Linked DNA regions of Homo sapiens. The protein of the gene in region 1 purifies or fractionates together with the protein of each later gene. This does not show direct contact. Each region holds a gene or a part of one and is shown on either strand. Other genes may lie near its edges.

Region 1 (6,568 bases):
CTGCGACTCATGAGCATGGACCTGGTGGGCTGAGCTTCAGCTGTGAGGGGTCAGGCCTGCTGCAGGGAGAGCCAGCTGCAGCCAGTGCCCTGCGCTGTGCCCACAGTCCCTGAGACCCCAGGCTGAGGAGAGCAGCACTGAGCCCAACCTGGAACGGGCTCACGGCTACTGGAGCTGGGTGTGTGCTCACTGGTGTGGATGTGCAGAGCCGGGACTCGCTCTGCAAGCAGGCTGGTCCCACAACCTTGAGCCACCCACTACAGGGAGGCTGTGAGAAGGTCCCTGGCCCCTAGGAAGCTCCCTCAGTGGAGATGTTTTGGCTGCTTTAATAACAGTCATCCTTCCAAAGCCCTTCACAGCAATAAATGTTTCCATATTCCAGATGAGGTTTGCAGGGACCTGTCCTCTCTATCAGTGTCCACCTGGCGCCTCCCCCGAGTCCGGCCTGCCCTTGCTTCTCCCAGAGCTCATGGTGTTTTTCAGGGCCGCAGGCTGGCAGGGTGTCCTTCTCCCAGGGGACTGAGCCTAGGGAGAGCCAAGTGGAGGTGCCCAAGTGGAGGAGAAAGGAAAGGACCACAGAGAGGGGAGGGGAAGTGGGAGAGTCATGGTTAGGACCTCAGGCTGAGGCCTTCTGCCAAGCCAGGGGTCTGGTGTCACTCAACTGGGAAACACTGTCAGCACCCAAAGCTGCTCTCAGAGGTGGGGGTGACGGGACCACTGCATGTGGGAGGCACACGGGCCCTGTGGCATCCACAGCTGTGGTCTCCTTAGTGTCCTGTCACAGACTTGCAAATCAAAGCCCAGAGAGGCGGCAGCCAGCCACCCTCCCACCTCCCCAGCACTCCTGTGCCCACCCCATGCCTGTTTAGCCTCTGCCCTTGCTGCCCCCTTCCTCTGCTGTGTCCTTTTGGCAAGAGGAAGGTACCTCGGGGCAGATTTGGGTGGTCCTTGTGAGACCCAGGGCAGAGTGTGGTCCGGGGATACGGCTTCTGTCCAGCTCCCTGCCAGACAGCTGTCTGATCCTAAGCACAGACCAGCCTCTCGGGGGTTTTGTTCGGCCAGGAGGTGGGCTGAGGGGCAAGTGTGTGGAACATGCAGGAACAGGCTGTGCAGTGGCCCTCAGTAGTGGGGGGCTGGGGACTTCTGGGAGACTCCTTTGCTCCCATTCGCCATCCATCCCCTTTCCCTGATCAGTGGGCCCTGGCTCTGGACACTGAGTGGAGCAGACAGTCCTCCTGCCCCTATAGGTTCCACCTCCTGACTGGCACTGTGGCATCAGCATGGTCCAGCCCGTGCTGTCCTGTCAAGGACCACCTCCACAGCCAGTGGCCCCTTCCTCCATCTCAGAGACAGAGAGACGCTGGGCACAAAAGCCCTGTTGAAAGTTCACTTTGAAGGGAAGCCCATGGGGTCATGGCGACAACACTTGTTATGGAAAGGCCCTGGCGCCTCCAGCAGCTCCCTTGAGGTTCAGGTGACTGGAGCATCCACTGGGTGCCAGCAGTGCTGCTGGGAGGAGCAGGGCACAGACAGGGGCCAAAGCTTTCTGAGGATTCTCCATCTATAGCTGGAAAAGTCATTCCTCTCACTGCCTCCCCTCCTCGTAGCGAGAACCCTCTGCCCACAGTGGAGATTGCCATCCGGAACACGGGCGATGCGGACCAGTGGTGCCCACTGCTGGAGACTCTGACAGACGCTGAGATGGAGAAGAAGATCCGCGACCAGGACAGGAACACGAGGTACCCCTGGCCCTGTGGTCCTGGGCTCTGCCCACAGGCACCTGGCTTTCCAGGCAGAGGCAGGGCCATTGCCTTTCCCAGTCTCCCATGGTCTCTGAGACAGAGTACCTCTAGTGCTGCTAGAGGCAGGCAGGCTTCTGGGTGATAAGGCCCCATCCAAACGCCAGGGTATGTTTCCCTGCATGGAACAAACATAATTCCTCAGGCTGAGGGTCTGACCACAGCCCAGATCCAGGTTTTGGGGTCCCTGGAGTGATGAGCAGGGCCTGAGTGGCAGACAGGCGAGGCTGAGAGAAGGCTGGGTCTGACCCTGCTGGGGGCCCACATCCTGCCTCTGTTCCCACCCCTACACTTGGCTGCCCTGTAGAGCCTTGGGAAGGGCAGCGCCCAGGCTGGGAGCTGGCCCCGACTCATTGCCCTCCCCACTCCTCTTCCAGGCGGATGAGGCGTCTTGCCAACACGGCCCCGGCCTGGTAACCAGCCCATCAGCACACGGCTCCCACGGAGCATCTCAGAAGATTGGGCCGCCTCTCCTCCATCTTCTGGCAAGGACAGAGGCGAGGGGACAGCCCAGCGCCATCCTGAGGATCGGGTGGGGGTGGAGTGGGGGCTTCCAGGTGGCCCTTCCCGGCACACATTCCATTTGTTGAGCCCCAGTCCTGCCCCCCACCCCACCCTCCCTACCCCTCCCCAGTCTCTGGGGTCAGGAAGAAACCTTATTTTAGGTTGTGTTTTGTTTTTGTATAGGAGCCCCAGGCAGGGCTAGTAACAGTTTTTAAATAAAAGGCAACAGGTCATGTTCAATTTCTTCAACAGGTCATGTTCAATTTCTTCAAAGTTTTAACATAAAAATAATGAGAGCCAGGAGTGGGGCCGGGGCCTGGGGGGACGAAGGTGGTATGTGAACAAGGTTGGCACACAGGCCTCACCCTCCTCTGCCTCAGATTCCCAAGTGGGCAGGTGGGGGTGAATGGGGCTCCGGGTAGCACCTCAGCTCCTCTCAGCTCCCCTCAGCCTGTTCTCCTTCCAGACCCAGAGAGCTGAGAAGAGTAGCTGTGAGGCTCAGGGCAAGAGGCTCTCTGCCTTTCAGGAACAGCCCTAACCCTGCTCCCCTTGCTTGGCCTCAGGAAGGTGCCGCGAGCTCTCCTGCCGTCCCTGGGCCGCCCTGGCTCTGCTGTGTCCAGATGGTCAGGCTACTGCCAGCTGGGGCCTTGCTGCTCTGAAGTCCCCTGCGGAGGGCCCAGTCCTGTGTGGGCACTGCTGGGCTGTCGCCAGCCTGGGTGCAGGAGGGCTGTTCTAGCTCCAGTGGCACCCATAGCCAGGTCAGCTGGGGCCCTTTCCCACCCCAGCAGGTGCTGTGGCCTGGGCCAGCTCCTGCCTTACAAGCCAGCTGTGAGGAATATGGGAATAGCCCTCCCGGCCTGGTGCCAGCTCTTGGAGTTGACACGGTACAGGGAGGAGACACAGCCCAGGGTCCCTTCCCAGCCCTGCCTCCAAGGAGTTCATGTCCCCTCTGTTCTCATCTGTAATAGGGAGGTGTCCCCATTCTTCAGAATGGACACAGGATCTGGGAGGGCAGCAAACTGGCTCGCAGCTCCAGCCTTACTGAAGAGAATGGGCACAGATCCGGGCACAGATCCCAGCACAGACTGCTGCCACCCTCAGCTGTTGGCAGGTCCCATGCTGCCAGGGCAGGGCTAGGGTCAGAGGCTGCTGTGCTCCCTGGAAGTGGGGTAGGGCCCCATGTGGGGCAGAGGCAGAGCTCTGATTAGGGATTGGGGTTCTTGGTCGCTGAGATGTGAGAGGAGGGCTCCTTTGAGCACATGTTAGCATGGGACTCTTCCCAGGGAGTTTGCACTCAGGGCCTCTGCCCTCCATCAAAGAGTGGAACTCCCCAGAGCCCCATGCACAGCAAGGGGACAGCTGGGCCTTACTGGAAGGCCTTGAACAAAGGGGAAGATTCCCAGCCCAGCTGCTCTTAGACATGAACAGGTTTCATTGCTGAGGTGTTTGTTCTGTCCATGAGGTAGGAACCTCGGCAATGAAAGGGTGAGGCAGCCCTGTGTCTCCACAACTGGGGGGATGGAAGGAACCTTGGCTGCCTCACCCCACAGGTCGGGCAGGGCCACCTGGCTGGGAGGTGCCGGGAAGGCTGGGCCCTCACTCCTGACCGCCAGCTCACACCGCCGCAAAGCCATCTCCACAAGGTCTGGCTACAACACGGAGGGCAGACTCAACAGAGAACAGTGTTGTTACCATGAAAATGACAACCTGTCTTTGGAGGAGGCCCCGTGCCACTGAGCATCCAGAAATAAACCACAACATGGACAGGCTTAGAACAACAAGGAAAGCTGCCAGGTCAGAAGAGAAAAATGAGCCACAGGGGTCGGATAAGGCTCACACACGTCCTCAGCTAAAAAGGGCAGGAACAGAACCTTCCAGAAGTCCCTGCCTCACCCAGTCTCAGAACTCTGCTAAGGTGAAAACTTAGGCTCTGAGGTCATAGAAAGGGCAGAAGACCTAGTCCTGGCCCTCTTCTGCACCTGAATCCATGGGGCTTTGGCATCACCAGATGAAAAATGAGGCATACGCCCACCTGTCAGGGTGGCTGATGAGAGACAGGAGAGGCTAGATTGGCATCAGCCTGAAGGCACCACTGGCAGGAACATCTGTAGGCTGGTTTGGCACAACCTAGGAGACGCCTGTCCTGGCCCCAGCAGCCGAAATCTGGTGAACTTCCCCGCTGACTGGCAGGTAGCAGAGGCCTATGGTGGGCAGGACTTGCCCAAGGCCCTGGTGGGGCCAGGATGAGAACCCTGAGCCTGTCACCTGTGAGCTCAAAAGCTCTGCCTGGCAACCTGTGAGCTCAAAGCTCTGCCAGGCAACCATGGGCAGTTTCTTTGCCCTCTGTGGGCACCCCTATCCTACCACCTGCAGTTGGGCTGAGAGGCCACACTGAGTGAGGACGGGGCAGGCATAGAAGGATGTGGCCAGGTGAGATGGGGAAGCCAGTGCTGTGGGCCAAGAGACTGCAGCTCATTCTGTTTATTCAGGTGGGCCCTTGCATGGGCCCAGCCTTTAGGATGGGTTTTTTCTGCCCCAAGTAGGGGTCATGGGTAGGATGGAAGCTGCCAGAAGCCTCTTAGGCCTGGCCCTGGGTGGGGGTCACTGCTGCGGGGGTGGCAGATGGGGTCCTGGCTGTTCCTCAGGGAGGGGCAGGTAATTGGGGTCTTCTGCAGGGGCATCCAGGAGCAGCTTTCTGTGGGGAGGGGCCCGTGTTGAGCACAGGCCAGCACAGGTCCCCATCGGTGGGGATCCTTCTGAGGGTGGGGAGAGGGAGGGAGGGCTCTCAACACTCACAGGAAGCCAGGGGTCTGCAGGAGCCTCTTGCCTCCAGGCTGGTTGGGGAAGACGTCCTCCAGGAAGTAGTAGATATGGCCCACCGCAATCCCTGTGAGACAGCCACGGACTGTGGGGTCACCCTCCACAGCCCAGAGTCCTAGACCAGCAGAGCCTGCCCCAGGCCCCCATCCACAGCCTGGTGGCCCTGCAGGCCCCACAGCATGAGTGCCCCAAAGCCTTGCACAGAGTGCCAGCCCCGGGTTGGCCGTGAAGGACAAGCTTAAAAGGCCCAGAAGCAGGCAGGACCCAGGGAGGGGAGGGCCTGAGAATAGTGGAGGAGTGGGAGCCATGGGGCAGGAACCCTGACCCTCCCATCCTCACTCCCATCAGGACCGTGCAAGCATCAGTAGATCCGTCCTGACGATGCAAATTATGTGGGCCGGCTGGCTTGAGGGGCTGTAAGAGCACAGCAGCTGGGAGGGCAGGAAGATGGGGATGGAGCCAGGTGTGAGGAGAACTCCAGCAAGGATGGGAGAGGGGCCCCAGGGCATAAGCAGCGTGTCCTGAGGGGAGTGGCCAGCCTGGGGCGGACTAGATGTACCGGGAGGCTCACCCAGCAGGTCCACGAGGATGGAGTTGCCCAGCAGCAGCGAGAAGCCCATGAGCGCCCAAGGCAGGAACGGTGCCTGGAAAGTGAGCAGGCCGAAGAAGTTGACCCTCACCCGAGGGCTGCGGCGGCTCCACACGTACACCAGCATGGCCATGAGGGCCTGGCCCAGGAAGAACAGGCTGCCCAGGAGTCCCAGCAGCTGGGCCAGAGTCAAGGTGCTCCGGTGCAGGCCTCAGCCCAAGCCCAGGGCCCCTCTGACTTCCCAAGACCCTGGAATTCTTCCCCTCATCTCCCCTATGTGCTATTCCCTCATCAAGATGAGCCAGTCCAATAAAGGCGACACACTCCACGGGCTTCAGGTCCCACGAAATCTGCCCTGCACACCTACAGCCTCATCCCAGGGCCCAACCACTGCCTGTCCCTGCCCCAGTTTCTCCCGGCTACTCGCATTCAGGGCTCAGCTAGTGGCCCTGACAACCCACCTGGCTCTTTTGTGCATGGCTTTGTATTTTGCATACAGCACTGAAGATCTAGCCCTGACCCCTGCAGCTGAGCACAGAGTGGGCCCTCAACACATACTAAGCTGGAGACAGCGACTGTGTCCCTCTCTGGCATGGCTGTGTTGGCCCCAGGACCAACACAGGCTGGACGCCGAGGCGCCCTAGCCCGAGGTTCCAGAGCCTGCGGGAAGGATACGGTCATAAGGACGCCCCCGAAGAGAAACATGAAGACGAAGTCGGCCGTGCGGCCGCGGAAGGAGCCCTCTTCCAGCATGCGGCAGTAGCGGAACCTACGGCGTCGGTATAGGAAGTGCCACCAGGCGGGGCCTCAGTTTCCCCGTCCCGGCCTCTCTCCCAGCCCGGCCGGCCTGCCCTCC
Region 2 (7,024 bases), on another chromosome or scaffold:
ATGTTGACATCAAAACTTTGCAGTTTGCTTTCAAAATGATGCTCATGTTCTCATTCACTAAGTGATTAAAGTTAACATCATCAGTAATGAGAGAAATTGAAATCATGCATTACCTGACTGGGTGCACTGAGAACACAGCATCATTCCTGTGATATTCTTGCCCAAAACATGCAACCTATATCTAACCATGAAGAAACATCAGACATGCCCACTGAGATATTCTACAAGGCCAGAGGGTTAAGTGACTTTCCAAATTTCACAGGACTTGTTGATGGCAGAACTGGAATAGGATTCAGTTATTCTGACTCCTGGACCTGAGATTCGATCCTATCCCATCCCATCTTATCCCATCTCCTTCTGTCCTCTTCAATCCTCTTCTATCCCCTTCCATTCCCCTTCCCACTTCTATTTCCATTCCAGTCCATTCTATTCCCATTCCATTTCACTCAAATTCCATTCCATTCCACAAATAATAATTGAGGCTTTATTTATGTGTTAGGCACTGTTCTAGACACTGGAGATTAATCCCCAGTGGAGTGTAAGACAAACAAAACCCTTGCCCTTATGAAACTCTTAATCCAGTGAAAGTAAGCAGAATGGTGGCTGCTCCTTGTCTGACATTCTTTGTGTGTGTGTATGTATATTATATAATATACATACACACACATATATACACATGTATATATATATATGTGTGTGTATACATATATATAGAAGGAATTCTCTTTCTTTTATCCCTTATTCCAATCCTGTTATTATTAAGGATTATATTTAACTTTACATGTTCAAATTAGTATAGTTCCTGTCTCCTGACTGAACGCTGATGCAGGGAAACTCTGGTCTCTGACTTTGATTTTTTTTTAATAGTAATGTTTGGTACAATCAACTGACTTAAAACTTTAAAAAACTGAATTTCTACGGGTAAATGTTTAAATATGAGAAAAAAGTTGACTTTAGAATGTCTAATAAGCCTATCCTATTCAACAACCAAGAAATAGATTTCATACCTATTACACATAAAGATATAAAGGCATATTTTGGACTTTAAAGAGCTTGCAGGACAGGAAAGGCAAAAACATTTTATCCTGAATGCCAACTATCTGGGTTAATGACTATCTGGGTTGATACGCATCTCAAGGCCAGAAAGGAATGATCAATTTGTGACATCAGACAGGTAAAAGACGGAGTGCTGGAAAAGCATGTCAGCTGTTACCTAGTCAGTTTCATAGATTTAGTAAACTGAAGCACAGAAATTTAAATGACTTGCCCAAAGCAAAGTTGTGTAATGTAAAGGCTGGTGCTAGACCCATATATGTGATTTCCAGTGCATTGTTCTTTACTTGTTGCTGCTCTAGATGATGATGGTGTTTTGAGGTCAGGTCGGAAGTACAAACAATTTAAGATGAGGCTTGTTTACCTTACCTATAGGGGTCCAGATGTGTTTTTCTGGGAAATCAGATTTATTGCCCACCATAGTCACAAACAGACTGGAAATAAGATAGATTTACAGAATTTTCTGCCTAACTCTAGAAATAGGATGGCAGAAGAGTCATTACATTAAGAAAGCCCAATGCTGCCATTTACTTTAAGACATATAAATTTGGATTTCAAACAAAACAGCTTACAAAAGGGTGTTTGGCATCAAAAGGGAATAGCACAGGAATTATACCTAAGTCCATTACATATAACACTGAACTATACAAGTAAATGTGTTTGACAATAACAATGCTTATTTGATTGTTGGGGAAGGTGACAGCTAGTAATACGTTGGACTTGAATTATATTTTTTCCTGGAAAATGGTATCTAGAGTAAATTTTTCGCACCTACTTGCCCAAACTTTCTTATCAGATGCTGAGTTGAAAAGAACATACCTAGATTCTACGGAAATTAGAAATCTAGCCTTTTTAAGAATATAACTTTGGAAATACTGGTGAATGGTAGATCTCCCATCCTCATGCTTGGAGGGCTATTATCTACCACAGGGCCACACAACAGTGCCCTCTTAAGCCCCTTAATTTCACCTAGTCTAGCCAAAGGCAACACAAGTTCAAACTTTCCGGCTAGACTTCAGAATAAGAAAATTTTTGAAGTGCATTTCTCACTTAAGGACATAGCATATTTAAAAAATAAGAGCAAAAGGGGAAATTCTTGTCTTTTTAAATCAAACATTATTTGTTGCCAGAAGTGTAATGACTTTTTGTTGGTATTTGTTAAGTACAGCCAGTTTTGATAATGTGCTCTCTTTTACTTTAGGAATTGCCTGTCCGTACTTTCCTTTAAAAGTTTTACCTGTACATCATCCTAGTAAGTATATGGCAAGGGCAGGGAAGTGACCCTGGATGTTTATTTCTGAAGAAACAAAAAAGATGACTAGTAGAGGATACAAGAGAAGCTGGAAGCTACTGATTTATCAATAGAATAAAAAATCCACAACACAAAAACAGATTAGAGTCTTCTTTGTTCAACTCACTCCTAAATACAAACCACTGGCTGCAAAATGGGTCTGGCCAAAAAAAATCTCCTATTCAGAATCCTGCTACTCATTTTACCTTAGAAATAATTATACATTTCTTTAACATTTAGAGTAAAAACAATCTTAATAAAAAGAGCAAATAACAGAATCTAATCAAGGTGTCTTCTGTCCTTAACTGTTTGTTCTACTAAAAAAGAATTTTTCATTAATAATCCTAATCATAACTCTGCAGTGTTCAAAGACCAAAGGGGTTAGGTACTTAGTTCAGTAAACAAAAGTCGTGGAACAAGCACCCAATGCCCCTGAATATTAACTTCACTATAACTATAATTCCTAGAAATAAATTTCAATTCTTTCCCATTCTGTATACTAACTGATTCTTACCACCAGTCAAAACAGAAAATTATTCTGGCTCTAATATTCAGTTCCATTTTGTCTGACTAGCAAAGTCACAATTAGTCAATGACTACCAGATACACTCTACTGTGTTTTGCAGATGTAAAACTTAGAAATTAGTGTTATAATTCTTATAGGAAAACCTAAATCAGTAAACTTAATTGTAGTTTAATTCAAAGTTTTTAATCCAATATTGCATTCAAAAAGAATCTGTTAATACATGTTGCTCTGCTTGTTACATGGCCACCAAGTGACTATAAGAGAAAACACACAGAAAAAAAAATTTTAAATGCAGTATCTGCCATCTTGTGGTACAGTGAGGAAATGCAGCAATTGAGAAGCTTCTAAATGCTGTAATCCTAAACATTTCTCCGCATTGCTCATGTAAATAGCCAATAATAACAATATGATAGTTCTATTTTTTCTGTAATCTACTTAATGCCATTTTTCTTGAGATTATCCTTGAGTAAATTACAGAGGCATCAAGATCCCCCCAAAGTTGTCAAATATTATTCGTATCCTTGCTAAAATCAGGTCTCCAAAAGATTGCTTCTCTATCCACTATGACCTAGTAGTCTTCACACTAGTAGGCATCAAACTGCAATAAAAGGCTCAGATACAACCCATCTGGCATCTAAAGGAACACTCAAAAATTTAACACTTCCCCTGGCACCACTCTCACCCATCTATCTACCTTTACCTCATAACAATAGCAAGCCAGGCGCGGTGGCTCATGCTTGTAATCCCAGCACTTTGGGAGGCCCAGGCGGGTGGATCATTTGAGGTAAGGAGTTCAAGACCAGCCTGGACAATATGGTGAGAACCCGTCTCTACTAAATATACAAAAATTAGCCAGGTGTGGTGGTGCACACCTGTACTCCCAGCTGCTTGGGAGGCTGAAGCATGAGAATCACCTGAACCTAGGAAGCAGAGGATGCAGTGAGCCAAGATCATGCCACTGCACTCCAACCTGGGCAACAGAGTGAGACTCTTTCAAAAAAAAAAGAAAAAAAAATAGCAGCTAACCCTTACTGAGCATTAACTATGTTATTAACTCAATCCTCACAACAAACCTATTAAGTAGGGACTATTATTTTCCTCATTTTAAATGATGAAGCAACTGAGGCACAGAGGTTAGTAATTTTCCTAAGATTATGGTGGAGATCCTAAGCTATTGAAATGATTACTACTTGTTTTCAAAAGCCCTTATCATTTATATCACAATATGAATAACAAATATTATGAATCGCAGTTATCAAAAAAACTTCAGCAGTATTACTACATCAAAACCATAAAAAACAGAAGATGTAGGTGACTAACTTCAATGTAAGAACTTCAAATAATTGCCCATTGACAGAATGCTAGCAGCTCTGGTAGAAGGGCAAAGCTTAGATATGATGTAACTAGCTTAGAGTACCAATGCTGACTTAGAACAGCATTCACCCATGCCATAGAGAACTGAGACAATGTGGCACCTTCATTAAATGAATTAAAGAGCTTTACTTGAGTTAATATCTTAGTTTACCAAACCTGACCTGAGTTTCCTCAAACACTTGACAATAGTTGCTTTCTAAGTCTGTAACATGATAGGTTTAGGCCGGGTACGGTGGCTCATGCCTGAGTCAGGAGAATCGCTTGAGCCTAGGAGTTTGTGACCAGCCTGGGCAACACAGGGAGACACCATCTCTCCAAAATAAAAATGTAAAAATCAGCTAGGTGTGATGGTGCACACTTGTAGTCCCAGCTACTTGGGAGGCTGAGGTGGGAGAATACCCTAAGCCTAGAAGTTCTAAGATGTAGTGAGATATGATCAGGCTACCACACTCCATCCTGGGTGACCGAGATCCTTTCTCTAAAAAAAAGAGATAAACAGCCAGGTGCGGCAGCTCACACCTGTAATCCCAGCACTTTGGAAGGCCAAGGTGGGTGGATCATGAGGTCAGGAGTTCGAGGCCAGCCTGGCCAACATAGTGAAACCCCGTCTCTACTAAAAATGCGAACAATTAGCTGGGCGTGGTGACAGGCGCCTGTAATCCCAGCTACTCAGGAGGCTGAGGCAGGAGAATGGCTTCAACCTGGGAGGCGGAGGTTGCAGTGAGCCGAGATTGCGCCATTGCACACCAGCCTGGGCAACAGCGAGACTCCGTCTCAAAAAAAGAAAAAATAAATAAACATAATAGGTTTAAAAAACTAAGTTAAAAAATAAGTCTCTCTATAGCTTTTTATTTACTGAGGTTAAAGATCTTTTCATATTTACAAACTATTTATATGTATTTGTTTCCCAGTTCACATCCTTATACATTTTGTTCCTCTACTATCTTTAGATATGAGCCTTTTGACCTGGATGAGTTACAAATCTGCCTCCCACTCTGTCTTTTGTCATTTTTCTTGACTTGTCTTCTAAGTTTTTGTTGGTCCACTGAACTAATTTTTTTTTTGTTATCAAATATATCTTTTATAGTTGAGTTTGGTGTCACACTTAGGCCTTCTTCAATCCATTTGCTTTAAGAGTTTAGGTTTTTGGTAGTTTTATCTTTTCCTATTTAAATCTTCTAGTGGAGGGCAGAAAACTGGGTTTTCCATTTGGTTACCAGTTGTTGTCCCAATTCCACTTACAAAATAATGTCTTTCCTTGCCAATTTCAAATATCATTTTTATCCTATATGAATTTTTTAAAGTATTAGGGTATTCTGACATCTTACTATGTTACATTGACCTTACTAGACACAAGAACCATAGCTTCTTTACATATTATTTCTAAAAATTTTGTTATTACAAATGGGGGTCTTTGTTCTTCCAACAGACTTGGTCACTAAGTGTTACTGATTTCTGTTTATTAATGCTGTACCAAATCACCTTGCTGAAATTGCTTTAGATAGTTCTCTTGAGGTTTTAGTTGTATATAACCAACTACTTAGAAAAACAAAACCTCTTAAATACACCCAAGGAGATCCAGTATAGTATTGAAGTGTACAATTTCAGTATGTTCACACAATGGAACATAATACATAGCAGTCAAAATGAACTATACTTAACATGTGTCAACAGGGGTAGATCAGAATATTAAATGAAAAAAAGCAAAGGGCCTTTGTCTCCTGGCACCCGGATACTGAGCTCAGTTTCCGTCTTCACTGTTCCATCTCCTCCATCCACTACTCCAGGATCTCATAGGTGACTCTACCACAGCCCCTGTTGTCCTGTGAGCTGCAGGCACTGGGAAATCCACAGGGAGGATGCCAGAACATCTGGAGCCTGCGAAATGGTATTTTCTTATTTAAAACAGGATCATCATGGTAGACGGGAGGCATGGTGGGAGGGGGGCGAGGGATAAAAGATTACAAATAGGGTGCAGTGTACACTGCTTGGGTGATGGGTCCACCAAAATCCCACAAATCACCACTAAAGAACTTAATCATGTAACCAAACACCACCTGTTCCCCAATAAGCTATGGAAAAATAAAAATAAAAAAAGCAAAGTTACAGAATTGTCCAAATACATACCATCTATGTTTCACAAACACTAAATACATTTCATTATCCCCCTAACGAAGGGACTAAGTTTCTTAGTTCCTAATGTCATAAAGGTTTACAGATTGATAACAAATATGTAGCAAAAGTACAAAAACATGGGTAAAATATTCACAAAAACATGGATAAAATAATCACAATGGTGATTACTTCTTAAGGCTGGGAGGGAGGGAGGATTACAAACGACAAAGTACACAAAGAGAGCTTCAATTTCGGTGTATTTTAAGAAAAAAACACCGAAGCAAATATAGCAAAAGTAAAATATTTGTTAAGTCGGGGTGGGTGCACAGCTGTTCATTACAAAAGTCTAGGTGCTATTGTGAATGTCTGAAACATTTAAGAGGCTTGTAGAGAAATATTTTTTCTTTTAATATTTTACTGCACTGAAGAGAAATACTTTTGACTGAATTATCTTCTGGCATTCTGTAATTTTTAATCTCAAAAGAATCAATGTGGGCCTGACAAAAAGGGAGATTTCACTGATTTTGGCAAGTTCCTAAAATGTTTTGTCTTCTTTGCACATCTTAGTAGCAGGAGTTACCCCCATTTGTCTGCTTCCTGCTACTAGAATGTAAGCTCTGAGTGTAAGCTCTGAGTGAAAGCATTTTTCCATTATATTCAGTTAC
Region 3 (7,620 bases), on another chromosome or scaffold:
TGCTGGGATTACAGGCGTGAGCCACTGTGCCTGGCCAAGAAGATAACATTTGAATAAAGACCTTAAGGAGGTAAGGGAGGGAGCCATGTAAATATATGGTTGATGGGTGCTGCAGTAGAGGAAGCGGAAGTGCAGAGACTTGAAGCAGGAGCTGGACTGTGCTTTCAGACGAGCAAGGAGGCCAGTGGATTTGGAGCAGAGACAGCACGGGTAGAGTTGTAGGAGGTGAGGTCAGAGAATTAACAGGATGATGCCTGGGGATGGATGGGGCCTTGTCAGCCGCTGTAGCTTGTACTCAAAGTGAGAAAGGAAGCTGAGCCCTTGAATGCAGGTCGCCCAATGCAGAGATCTGGGGTGGCTCCTCTGTATCCACCTCGGCATCTCATCTAGCACAAGCCTTTCACCTAGAAAATGACAAGATGTGATTTTTTTTTTCTTTTTGAGATAGAATCTCGCTCTGTCACCCAAGCTGGAGTGCAGTGGCACAATCTCGGCTCACTGCAACCTCTGCCTCCTGGGTTAAAGTGATTCTCCTGCCTCAGCCTCCCTAGTAGCTGGGATTACAGGCGCGCGCCACCACACCCAGCTAATTTTTTGTGTCTTTAGTAGAGACGGGGTTTCACCATATTGGCCAGGCTGGTCTCGAACTCCTGACCTTCTGATCCAACAGCCTCGGCCTCCCAAAGTGCTGGGATTACAGGTGTGAGCCACCGTGCCGGACCTGATTATTATTATTATTATTATTATTATTATTATTTTAAGAAAATGGTGTCAGGCTGGGTGTGGTGGCTCACGCCTGTAATCCCAGCACTTTGGGAGGCCGAGGTGGGTATATCACCTGAGGTCAGGAGCTCGAGGCAAGCCTGGCCAACATGGTGAAACTCCGTTTCTACTAAAAACACAAAAAATTAGCCGAGTGTGGTGGTGGGCACCTCTAGTCCCAGCTACTCAGGAGGCTGAAGCAGGAGAATCACTGGAACCCAGGAGGCGGAGGTTGCAGTGAGCCAAGATCGCACTACTGCACTCCAGCCTGGGAAACAAAAGCAAAACTCCGTCTTAAGGGAAAAAAAGAAAAGAGGCTGGGCGCAGTGGCTCATGCTTATAATCCCAGCATTTTGGGAAGTCGAGGCAGGCGGATCACCTGAGGTCGGGAGTTCGAGACCAGCCTGACCAACATGGAGAAACCCCGTCTCTACTAAAAATACAAAATTAGCCAGGCGTGGTGGCGCATGCCTGTAATCCCGGCTACTCAGGTGGCTGAGGCAGGAGAATGGCTTGAACCAGGGAGGCGGAGGTTGCGGTGAGCCGAGACTGCGCCACTGCACTCCAGCCTGGGTGACAAGAGCGAAACTCTGTCTAAAAAAGAAAGAAAAAGAAAAAAAAAGGGTATCAACACAGAGCATTTGGGTAGGCTATGAGGAATAGGTGGTAGGTGCCCACTTTGATCACTCTCTTACACAGACCGAGCCCCAGTGGAAGATGAGGTGGGGAATGTAGGACTAGGTGGACAAATGTAGGGAGAAAACAAGGTTGGGGGGGTCTCTGGGACTTTGCCCCAGGAAGACGACTGGCTGGGTGAGCTGGGGGAGACATGTGTGCAGGGAACCTGTGCAGCTGGGAGGAGCGCTGGGCTGTGGACGAGAAGGAAGCTACAGACAAGAAACCTCACGTGGGAGGATTTGGACAAGGGTGAGACAGACACAGGGGCTGTGTGCCTCAACCAGGGGGATCTATGGGCAGAACTGGAGAAGTCTCAAGGGCTGGCCTCTCTCTTGGCACGTATGTTCTGCCTTTCTACTGCTTTCCTCACCTTCACCCCAAGGACAAGGAGTGTGTCTTACTCAACTTCACATCACCTGCAGTGTCCACTGTGCTAGGGCGTACAGCAGGTGCTTAGGCAATCTGCGGTTATTTTGGATCGGCTGGGTCTGAACAACAAATGTGCCACCTTTGATCCCGTTATTTCTAGAATCATCTTTTCACTCCACATGCTGGTTCAGCTTTTGCACTCCTCAGTCAGGCAGAAGCTATTTCTGGCCCCCTCGCCAGTAAGATGACATATGCTTGCCCTATGTTGCTTGATCATGAAAGGCTGACTCATAATCAGAGGCTGTCTCAAGTTCAGGGCTAGCTAGGCATTTCTCTGGAGCACATGGAAATTAGTTTCTTTATAGGTGAGAACAGCCACTACCAATCTGCTTTCTGTCCCAAGCTGTGTCCTGAAACAGCTGCTACAGGACCCTCTCCGCATACTGCAAGCGTGGGTGACACCTGCCTGCAATTGGGTGGGGGCAAAGAGGACAAGAGCTTGCACTGGATTCAACATTCATGCAAACATTTATTGAGCATCTGTAGCATCTGTGAACACTGCCCTGGGAGTAACAGCACCTACCCTATTTTTAGAGGTCAGCTTCAAGATTAAGGTTGTCATAACACCTCTTTTTTCTTTGCTGCAGACTAGGAATAAAAGCCATAGCATCTTACACCTCCCCTCCCCTACTTAAGCTGGCATTTATCAAATAGCATTTTACTTATTTGTTTAATTAATTTATTTTTTCCAAGATGGAGTTTTGTTCTTGTTGCCCGGGCTGGAGTGCAATGGTGCGATCTTGGCTCACTGCAACCTCCACCTCCTGGGTTCAAGCGATTCTCCTGCCTCAGCTTTCCAAGCAGCTAATTCTGTATGTTTAGTAGAGATGGGGTTTTGCCACGTTGGACAGGCTGATCTCAAACTCCTGACCTCAAATGATCCACCCACCTTGGCCTCCCAAAGTGCTGGGATTACAGGCGTGAGCCACCATGCTCCGCCTAGGCTAGCATTTATCAAATAGCATTTTAAATATGCTTTGGGAAGCTGGACCCAGTGACTCACGTCTGCAATCCCAGCACTGTGGGAGGCCGAGGAAGGAGGATCAATTGAGTCCAGGTGTTCAAGACCAACCTGGGCAACATAGGAAGACCCTGTCTCTACCAAAAAAAAAAAAAAAAAAATGTCAGCGAGGCATGGTGGCCCTCGCCTGTGGTCTCAGCTACACAGGAGGCTGAGGCAGAAGGATCACTTGAGCAAGGCCCTGTACCAAAAAATAAGTAAAAGTAAAAAATAAATATTTTTTTTTCGTCTGAATGTTCTACTAAACTGGAAGCTCAGCCAGTCACAGTGGCTCATGCCTGTAATCCCAGCACTTTGTGAGGATCCCTTGAGACCAGGAGTTCAAGACCAGCCTGGACAACATAGTGAGATCCCCTCTCCACATGAATAAATAAACTGGGCCGGGTGCGGTGGCTCACGCCTGTAATCCCAGTACTTTGGGAGGCCGAGGCAGGTGGATCACGAGGTCAGGAGTTCAAGACCAGCCTGACCAACATGGTGAAACCCCATCTCCACTAAAAATAAAAAAATTAGCTGGGTGTGATGGCGGACGACTATAATCCCAGCTACTCGGAAGGCTGAGACAGAAAATTGCTTGAACCCGGGAGGCGGAGATTGTAGTGAGCCGAGATCACACCACTGTACTCCAGCCTGGGCAAAAGAGCGAGACTCCGTCTCAAAAAAAAAAAGGCCAGGCGTGGTGGCTCACGCCTGTAATCCCAGCACTTTGAGAGGCCAAGGCGGGCAGATCACGAGGTCAGGAGTTCCAGACCAGCCTGACCAACATGATAAAACCCCGTCTCTACTAAAATTACAAAAATTAGCTGGGCGTGGTGGCACCCGCCTGTAATCCCAGCTACTCAGGAGGCTGAGGCAGAAGAACCGCTTGAACCCGGGAGGCGGAGGTTGCAGTGAGCGGAGATCACACCACTGCACTCCAGCCTGAGTCACAGAGCGAGACTCCGTCTCAATAAATAAACAAACTGGAAGCTCTTTGAAACCAAAACCACGTATGTCTTCAGCTTTAGGTACAGAGTCTTGCACAAAATAGACATCTTTTTATTTATTTACTTTAGAGACGGGGTCTCGTTTAGACATGGGGTCTCCATATGTTGCCCAGGCTGGAGTGCAGTGGCTATTCACAGGTGCGATCATATCATAGCTGACGGCAGCCTCAAATTCCTGGGGTCAAGTGATCCTCCCGCTTCAGCCTCCCAAATACTTGGGACTACTAGATACTCGAGAAAAGGCAAGAATGTGGTCTGAATGCTGGGAAAGCAGTTCATCTGGTAAAGAGAGGAGGGGATTCCAGGTGAGGAACAGGTGTGTGCAAAGACCGGAAGCCATCCTTAAGAAAGGCGTGGTTGGAGCACAGCGTAGGAGCCAGAGGGCAAAGGTGCTGGGCAGGAGAGGCGGGAGGACAGAGATGGCGCAGGAGTGCGGTTCCACAGGGTCAGGTTCCTAACACGCTGGCCAGAGCAGGGAGCCGACCTCCAAACTCTCAGGGAAGAGAACCAGGTTGCCCACCGGCGGCACCTCGCACCTCGCCCTGACCACAAGCACGTGCGCCCAACCCGCCTCGCACCCCGGCCCGGGTAGGGGGCTCAGGGGACTCCCGGGGCACTCAGGAGGGACGCCCCGGGCGGGGCGCGCAGGCGCGCTGAGGCCGTGAGCCCCAAGGGGCGGGCGGGTGCGCGCGCTTTCTCGCGCACGCGCGCACGGAGGGGGCGACGGCCGCTGTGACGCTGCGGCGGCGGCGGGCGGGCGGCGGCGCGTGAGGCGCGCGATCCCCGGTGTCTTGGGAGCAGTGCCCCGGCCCCCGCCGCTCCCGCCGCCGCCATGTCGGGCCGGTCGGTCCGGGCGGAGACCCGCAGCCGGGCCAAGGACGACATCAAGAAGGTGATGGCGGCCATCGAGAAAGTGCGGAAATGGTGAGGGGCCGGAGCTTAGGGGGCTGGCGGGGGTCGCGGATCCAGGCCCTGAGGAGCGTGGGACTGGCGGGTCAGGTGGGAGCCGACCGGCCGGCGCTGGGGGAGGGGGGTGCGGGAGAAGGCGGGAGGAGGGCGCCGCTGGCGTCGGCGTGAGGTCAGAGGGCGCGCCGGCCGCGGCCAATCAGCGGTCCTCCCGGCTCGCGGGCCCGCCCACCTGCTGCGGCTGCTGCCGCGCGCCGCCTGGGAGGGGATTCCGGCTTCCGGCCCGGACTGGAGCTGCCTGGCGTCGGTGCCCGCGCCCGGCCCAGCCCGGGGCCCGCCCTCCCCTCTTCCTGGGCAGTGGCCCCGCCTGCGTTTCCAGGCTTCCTCTTGATAATAGCGAGTAGCCCTGGAGTGGTGTCAGCCCGCCAGGCTGAGCGCTCTGCGTATTCAGGCGTTGAAGTTGGGTGAGTTTCTGGGTTAGTCCATCTGTCAAGGGAGCAAGCCTGGTGTCATCCAGAGGGATACCCCTCCCTTTCCCCCAGTAACCGGCCCCTGCGCCGCGAGCTTGGTAGGCATTTTCTCTTGCTGCCCCGGCGGCTGTCAGGAGAGTCCTTTGCAAACTATGTACCAGCCTCCCTCTAATTTCCCTGCTTCTGCTCTTGTTCATTCCCCAGTCCGTTCATCATTTGCACTGTGTGATTTTATTTTTCTCACTTCCAAGTAGCAGAGTGGTCTTTTTAAAGTGCACATCCTTACTTGGGAGGCTGTGGTGGGAGGATTGCTGGGACCCAGGAGTTGGAGGCTGCAGTGAGCTATGATCGTGCCACGGCACTCCAGCCTGGGCTACGGAGAGAGACCCCGTGTCTAAAATGTTCATGGAAGATGCCGATTGAGCCCCTGTTTAGTATCCGGAACTCCGATACATACTATATCGGTGTGTATCGGAGTCATCACATTAAACTTTCACAGCCAACTTCGTCAGCTCTTTTGTATAGCCAATTACTACTAATAATTTAAAAACCCAGGTCTGGCTAGGTGAGGTGGCTCAGGCATGTAATCCCAGCACTTTGGGAGGCTGAGGTGGGCGGATCGCTTGAGGCCAGGAGTTTGAGACCAGCCTGGGCAACATAGTGAGACCCCGTCTCTACAGAAAATAAAAGTTCAAGTAGATGTTACCTCCCGCCAGGAAGCTTTCCTTAACTCCTCCCATCCCTTTACCTCCTTTAAGGTCGTTGGTACGTTGGACTTTATTTGTGTGTTTATCTGTCCATTTCCCCACAAGAGGGAAGTTCCTTCTCTTTTTTATGTCTGAGGGCTTCATATATAGTTGGGTTTCAGTATAAATATTAGTTTAACATACTCATGGTTTTCCTCGTCCACCTTTAATCCTCCGAGGTTTTGGTGAAACCTAAGAACAGGTACACCTTTCTCTTCTCCCCATTTTTGACCCCCCCGCCCCTAGCAGGCTAGGCTGAAGGGCCATCCCCTGTCACCTGGAACTCTGTACCAGCCTCCCTGTAAACTCTCTGCTTCTGCTCTTGCTCATTCCCCAGTCTGTTCATTTGCACTGAGTGATTTTATTTTTCTCTCTTCCGAGTAGCGGAGTGACCTTTTTAAAGTGCACAGCCTTATTTGGAAGGCTGTGGTGGGAGGATCGCTGGAGCCCAGGAGTTGAGGCTGCAGTGAACTATGATCATGCCATGGCACTCCAGCCTGGGCAACACAGTGAGACCCCATCTGTAAAAAAATATATAAAATGTGCATCTTATCCTAGCACCCCTAGTAATGCTTCAGTGGTTCCCTTCTTGCTTTTAGGATAAATACTGAAGAAGGCCCTCCTTCCTGCCTCACTTGGCTGGCTCTTTCCCAGGATGCCCGCTGTCTTACCAATGAAGTCACTCTGCTCTTCCTGCCGCCTGGCATTCTTCTTCCTCTCTCCTCTCCTCCCTCTTGCCGAGTTAACTCCTAGCTCAGCTCAAAAGTTGCTTCCTTAGGTTTACCACTTGAGATTCCCAATCTAGATCAAGTCTCCTTCATAGACCTTTCCACAGTTGTATTAGATGGACTCATAAGACATTTCCTATATTTGATTTCTTTTTTTTTGAGACAGAGTCTTGCTCTGTCACCCACGTTGGAGTGCAATGGTGCGATCTTGGCTCACGGCAACCTCTGCTTCCCGGGTTCAAGCAATTCTGCCTCAGCCTCCCGAGTAGCTGATTATAAGTGTACACCACCACACCCAGCTAATTTTTTGTATTTTTGTGGAGACCGGGTTTCACCATGTTGGCCAAGCTGGTCTTGAACTCCTGAATTCCAAGTGGTCCTCCCACCATGACCTCCCAAAGTGCTGGAATTACAGATGTGAGCCACTGTGCCTGGCCTCCTGTATTTGACTAATTAACCTACAAAAATGGCAATTTGATATGGTTGAACCTGATGATTAAGTGACTAATCTTGAATTGAGCTATTCATGTCTGTTTCCAGATATAAGACAGGGTCTGTGAGGGCAGGGACTGTGGATCTTGTTCCCTGCATCACCAGGGCCTAGCACAGCCTGTTGTATACTAATTGGTTGAATAAATGAGAAAATGGAGTGGTCTGTTCAGGAATTAATTTTAGTTATTTTCTAAGACTTTAATTCGCTCCTTCTGTTACATCACAGTCTCTTTACACTCCCAGTATGTCATCTGTTTTTTTTTTTTTTTTTTGAGACCCAGTCTTGCCTGTCACCCAGGCTGGAGTGCAGTGGCGTGGTCTTGGCTCACTGCAGTGTCCGCCTCTGGGGTTCAAGCAGTTCTTCCGCCTCAGCCTCCTGAGTAGTCGGGACTACAGGTGTGC

Evidence for each region. The genes of interacting proteins can lie anywhere in the genome.
Region 2: the proteins of SMARCB1 (region 1) and HDAC2 purify together in Homo sapiens (affinity purification with mass spectrometry; 5 studies listed by BioGRID and IntAct, with this or other methods). This does not show direct contact.
Region 3: the proteins of SMARCB1 (region 1) and BCL7B purify together in Homo sapiens (affinity purification with mass spectrometry; 6 studies listed by BioGRID and IntAct, with this or other methods). This does not show direct contact.

The regions. Positions count from the first base shown.
Region 1 is NC_000022.11:23,831,965-23,838,532, forward strand, and holds the end of SMARCB1 (SWI/SNF-related matrix-associated actin-dependent regulator of chromatin subfamily B member 1), read left to right. Parts: intron 1-1,607; coding exon 1,608-1,739; intron 1,740-2,176; coding exon 2,177-2,216; 3' UTR 2,217-2,862; coding exon of another isoform or gene 2,863-3,015; 3' UTR 3,016-4,904; coding exon of another isoform or gene 4,905-4,998; 3' UTR 4,999-5,095; coding exon of another isoform or gene 5,096-5,190; 3' UTR 5,191-5,694; coding exon of another isoform or gene 5,695-5,890; 3' UTR 5,891-6,045; downstream 6,046-6,568. Other genes in the region: DERL3 (derlin-3), read right to left, coding at 2,863-3,015, 5,100-5,190, 5,695-5,767, 6,174-6,481.
Region 2 is NC_000006.12:113,933,125-113,940,148, forward strand, and holds part of HDAC2 (histone deacetylase 2), read right to left. Parts: 3' UTR 1-7,024. UniProt on the Homo sapiens protein: Histone deacetylase that catalyzes the deacetylation of lysine residues on the N-terminal part of the core histones (H2A, H2B, H3 and H4).
Region 3 is NC_000007.14:73,554,667-73,562,286, reverse strand, and holds the start of BCL7B (B-cell CLL/lymphoma 7 protein family member B), read left to right. Parts: upstream 1-4,596; 5' UTR 4,597-4,708; coding exon 4,709-4,800; intron 4,801-5,050; exon of another isoform or gene 5,051-5,246; intron 5,247-7,620. UniProt on the Homo sapiens protein: Positive regulator of apoptosis. Plays a role in the Wnt signaling pathway, negatively regulating the expression of Wnt signaling components CTNNB1 and HMGA1.